Regions from separate parts of the Homo sapiens genome. Here region 1 is linked to region 2. The links come from fine-mapping of genetic effects on gene expression. A gene starts in region 2. The other region holds a variant in brackets. All regions are shown on one strand. Distances are between the middles of the regions.

The links. PIP is the estimated chance that this variant, and not a neighbour inherited with it, causes the effect.
Region 1: its variant is the best candidate, but not a certain one, in a credible set for the expression of ABHD8 in lymphoblastoid cells (GTEx, PIP 0.64).

Annotation. Positions count from the first base shown.
Region 1 is chr19:17,344,326-17,346,825 of GRCh38, forward strand. No RefSeq gene overlaps it. Among named protein-coding and RNA genes, the nearest start is that of GTPBP3, 8.0 kb to the left of the region's middle. RefSeq lists an enhancer at 1,766-2,500. The variant A/G (reference allele first, on the strand shown) is at 1,089.
Region 2 is chr19:17,301,913-17,304,923 of GRCh38, forward strand. ABHD8 (abhydrolase domain containing 8) reads right to left here and starts at 1,513. Exons shown (of 5, transcript NM_024527.5): 1 at 1,330-1,513. It also overlaps a transcript of MRPL34 not described here. RefSeq lists an enhancer at 1-50 and silencers at 408-702, 1,086-1,635.

The DNA of each region.
Region 1 (2,500 bases), 42 kb after region 2:
GTTTGACTCCAAATCTGAGTTTGCTGAGGGCCTCCTGTGCAGCAGGCAGGATGTTGGGGTCACAGAGGGGAGCAACAGGCTTGGTCCCTGTTCACATTAAAGAAGTGACAAGAGGCCAGGCGTGGTGGCTCACGCCTGTAATCCCAACAATTTTGGAAGCCAAGGTGGGCAGATCACTTGAGGCCTGGAGTTTGAGACCAGCCTGGCCAACGTGGTGAAACCCCATCTCTACAAAAAATACAAACATTAGCCAAGCATGGTGGCACACGTCTGTGGTCCCAGTAACTCAGGAGGGTGAGACAAGAGAGTTGCTTGAACCTGGGAGGCAGAGGTTGCAGTGAGCAGAGATCACGCCACTGCACTCCAGCCTGGGCGATAGAGCGAGACTCTGTCTCGAAACAACAACGAAAAGAAGAGACAAGAAAGAGGTCATTACAGTGAGGCCTGATGGCTGCTCTTTTTTTTTTTGAGATAGAGTCTTTGCTCTTTTGCCCAGGGTGGAGTGGCATGATCTCAGCTCACTGGCAACCTCTGCCTCCCAGGTTCAAGCGACTCTCCTGCCTCAGCCTCCCGAGTAGCTGGGACTATAGGCGTGTGCCACCACGCCTGGCTAATTTTTGTATTTTTAGTAGAGACGGGTTTCACCATGTTGGCCAGGCTGGTCTCAAATGCCTGGGATTACAGGCGTGAGCCACCGTGCCCAGCCTTTTTTTTTTTTTTCTTTAAGTAAAGATGGGGGTCTTGCTGTGTTGCCCAGGCTGGTCTCAAACTCTTGGCCTCTGGTGATCCTGAGACCTCAGCCTCCCAAAGTGCTGGGATCACATGTGTGAGCCACCGTGCCTGGCCTGATGGCTTCTTTGAAGCTCATAAAGAGGAGAAGTGACCTAGTCAGGCAACTTAAAGTGGGCTGCCTGGCAGAGGTGATGAGTGTTGAGATCTGAATGGTGAGGATGTCAGATGGAGGAGTCTGGGGAGGGCACCCCAGGCAGAGGGCACTGAATATGCAAATCCCTTCATATGCATATCCCACTGACACATATTTCACTGGATTACATATCCCACTGATTCAGGAACTTCGCGGTGTGTTC[A/G]AGGAATAGTGAGATGGTCAGGTTTTTTTGTTGGTTTGTTTGCTTTTTTTTTTTTTTTTTTTTTGAGACAGGGTCTTGCTCTGTCGCCCAGGCTGGAGTGCGGTGGCGTGATTGTGGCTCACTGCAACCTCCGCCTTCCAGGTTCAAGCAATTCTCCTGCCTCAGCCTCCCAAGTAGCTGGGATTACAGGCATGTGCCACCACGCCCGACCTTTTTTTTTTTTTTTTTTTTTTTTGACAAGGCCTCTCCCTTTCACCCAGGCTGGACTGCAGTGGCTCGATCATGGCTCACTGTAGCTTCCATCTTCTGGGCTCAAGTGATCCTCCCACCTCAGCCTCCTGAATAGCTAGGACTACAGGCATGCGCCACCACGCCCAGCTAATTTTTAAATTTCTTTTAGAGATGGGTTCTCACTATGTTGCCCAAGCTGGTTTTAAGCTTTTGGGCTCAGGCAATCTTCCTGCCTTGGCTTCCCAAGGTGCTGGGATTACAGGTGTGAGCTACTATGCCTGGCCCTTTTTTTGGGGGGGGGTTGGGGTGGGGTCTCACTCTGTCACCCAGGCTGGAATGCAGTGGTACAATCATGGCTCACTGTAATCTTCAACCTCCTGGGCTCAGTTGATCCTTCCACCTCGGCCTCCTGAATAGCTAGGACCACAACCACCATGCCCGGCTAATTTTTAAATTTTTTTCATGGAGACAGGATCTTGCTATGTTGCCCAGGTTGGTCTCAAACTCCTGACCTCAAGTGATCTGTCCGCCTCAGCCTCCCAAAGTGTTGGGATTACAGGCGAGAGCCACCGCGCCCGGCCAGAGGTGGTCAGAGTGGCTGGAGCAGAGGAAAGGAGGAGAAAGAGGAGGGAGACCATTGGAGAAGGGATGGATGGAGGGGTCTGATAGGCAGAGGTTCGTCTGAGATTCTTCGGGGAGCCTGACGTGGCGGGGACCGACCAGCAGAGGGCGCGTCGCGCTAAGTGAGGCGGTCCCCAGCAATCCTCCCATCAGCGCTCCCGGTGCCCCACCCTCAGCGGATCTAGGCCTTCCGCATTCACCTGGTGGCATGTGAATGGTTAACTTCCCCTGACTGGGGTGGAAACTGAGTCTCGAAGAGAATCAGGATCTTTTCTGGAATCAGAAAAAGATCTCCACCTCCAGTGGTTGAATATACAAACTCTGATTTCAGTGGACACAGAGCCTGGGAGGCATCCGCGGCAGAGAGAGGGCACGAAAAGGGCCTAAGGAGGCCCGCAGAGTTTCTGACCACCCAACTGAAGGAGACCTCAGGGCCGGGCGCGGTGGCTCACGCCTGTAATCCCAGCACTTTGGGAGGCCAAGGTGGGTGGATCACCTGAGGTCAGGAGACCAGCCTGGCCAACGTAGTGAAACCCCGTCTCTACTAAAAATACAAAAAT
Region 2 (3,011 bases):
CCTCCTGAGTAGCTGGGATTATAGGCAGGTGCCACCATGTCTAGCTAATTTTTGTATTTTTTGTAGAGATGGGGTTTCACCATGTTGGCCAGGCTGGTCTTGAACTCCTGACCTCAAATTTTCCTCCTGCTTCGGCCTCCCAAAGTGCTGGGATTATAGGTGTGAGCCACCGTGCACTGACATGTTTTGTCTGAGCAGTGCCTTTGTGGTAGTTACCCTCCTGGGTCACCCTAGTCTATCCTCAGAGAGAAAGACTTGGCTATGGCTTACCCCACAGGGTGTCCACAGGGAAGGTGGTGGCGTCTTGTGTGGGGATGTTCCTGGAGAAGGGGACATTGTGGCAAATGTGGACCAGCCGGAAGACACCCCCTCCCCCCAGCTGGAGTTTATACCATTTATGGCCTCCTAACTCATTCATTCAGGTATACACTAACTCATCCATTCAGGTATACACTAACTCATTCATTCAGGTATACACTAACTCACTAACTCATCCAGGTATGCACTCACTAACTCACATATCCCCAGGGCCTCCTAAGGCATCTAAAATATGCAAATCTTTGGTGAGCCCCCAGTGAGGCTCCTGGCTCTGAATTTGACTCCTGAAAGGTGAGGCCCTAGGAGAGGGGGATGGGGACTGAGCCACAGAAAGCCTTGCTCAGCTCCCCTAGACCGGGGTGAGCCGGGGTCTGTTTCATAGAGGGCCAAGCTGAGGCCCAGACACTCTGAGAGGAAGCTAGACTCTGAACTTCCTCCTTGGCACCCTGGATTCTGGGGATCTGCTATACAAGTCCCCAGAGGTGGCGAAGAGGATGGGAGAGGCAGGGCCCTGGCTGGGGGCCTCCAAGCCTCCATCCCACTCCTTGGGCCACCCCCGCCCCCGTGTCCATGGCAACCACAGGCGGTTACATAACCTAAGGGGGGGATACCCGAGCAGTGCACCCCCATTGTCGAGGTGTCTAGGGCCTGGAGATGGGACCAGCTGCCTGCCTGCCCCCTACCCCAGGTTGGGCGCCGCTAAGGTAACGCACGCCCGAGACTGAGCCGCAGTGGCCCCAGACATACTGGAGGGGAAGCAGGCCATGCCCCCCACCTCGAGTGGGGCCCTAATCCCGGATTGTGGAGGGCAACGCACAGGCGCCACCCCAGCCCCGCTTCCCCGCCCCCGGCCCCCGCCTTCCAGGTGTTCGTCATCCCTGCAGCGGGGTCGAGCCCACTGGGGCTCCGTGGCTTCCTACGAGCCCAAACGCGGGGTTGGTGGACACCACTCCTCCGAAGTGGAGGCCCCGGGGCTTCGATCTCTCCTTTTGGGGCCCGTTCCCCGCTCACCTCATCGAGGGCCGCGGGGCCCGGGTCGGGGCGGAGGGGTCCCAGGCGGAGAAGCCAGCGTCCGCCTGCTGGCGCCGTTTACATGGTGGCGCGGGGTCAGGCCGGGTGCGTCTACGCGGGCGGGCACCTGCCCCTGGCGGTCAGCGCAGGGGCATCCCGCGGCCGCCGAAACAGCCGGCCCTTTAAGTTCCTCCCCCGAGTAGGCGGAGCCACGTGCCGACGGGCGGGCACTTCGGCCTATCGCAGCTGCGGACTGACCTGGCCTAGTTAGGAGCCCAATGAGAGGCGGCAATTCCGTAGTGGAGGCGGGCTCTGGGAGCAACGGCCCCGCCCCTTTTGGGGGTTCACCGAGGTTGGGGGAGGGATGGGGCCTGGCTCAAGGCGGAGAAGGGGGTTGCAGTCTAGGGTCTGCGGGACGCCTGGGAGTGTGCGGCCGGGGCCCTCTCTCTGCAAATGGGTCTCCCAAGCCCTTGCCCCCCAGCCCCTGCCTCCCAATTGCCCTGTTCCTCTCCAAACGAGGCCCCCATACTCTTCTCTCTGTATTGACCTTTCCATTCTAGAAGCAGAGACTCCAAGATCTTTTTCCAATCTCCGGTGGGGAAACTGAGGCTCATAAAGGGCACAAGAGCATAAATCAAGCAAGGAGCAAAGCTGGGACTTGAACCCAAGGCTGTGTGATTCCAAACCCTGGGAACCATTATTTGCTAACCTCCCCCCTACGCCCCCCCCTTTTCTTTTGGTAGGGACGAGGTCTCGCTATCTTGCCCAGACTGGTCTCGAACTCTGGGCATCAAGCAATCCTCTCGTCTACGGCCTCCCAAAGGGCTGAGATCACTGGCGTGAGCCATCGTGACGGGCTTCTCTAAAGCTTTCAAGGAAAGTCTTGGAGCTGTGGGTAATTAGAGAGTTTGAATTTCATAATCAGCCGATTTAACCCATGGCTGCCATGGTTCTGAGAAGGGCTGATAGCAAGAGGCAGGCATCCCAGCTCTGTGGTACCGGCGGGGCCATGGTAGGCCCTCAGGAGAGCTCAGGTCTCAAATCCAGCCTCTGCCCTTTGCTGATGTGTGACCTCGGGCAAGTTACTTCACTTTCCTGAGCCTCCGTTTATTTCTCTATGAAATTAATCCTCTCATAAGTTTGCTACGCAGGTAAAGCACTCATCATAGTGTCGTGCATATAACAAATGCTCCATATATTATGGGCATTATTATAGTGGTGATGTTTTGCTAAACGATGCTACAGGTAGGATGGGCTTCGGAGGACGAGGGGTTAAATGCTCCTTGCTGCTTGGCCACTCACATCCCCTGGAATTTGCTGCCAGAGCTGGATTCCGTCCAGACACCTACTCTTGCCCACTAAGGGCACTTCTGGGAGACTATACAGTTTATTCATTTAGCAAACACCTCTCTGCATGAACCCCAAGCTGGCACTTGTAGGGATACAGCCCCAGGCCCCTGGCCCTTGAGGAGCCCTTGAACTTGGGGGAGAGTCAAGGGAAAGCAGTCGGGCCAGAAGAATGGACAGCGGTTGAGAGAAGACGACTCCTTTTTTTTTTGAGAAAGGATCTCACTCCGTTGCCCAGGCTGCAGTGCATTGGCGCTATCATTGCTCACTACAGCCTGGATCTCCTGGGTTCAGGGAATCCTCCCACCTCACCTTCAAGTACTTGAGACTATAGG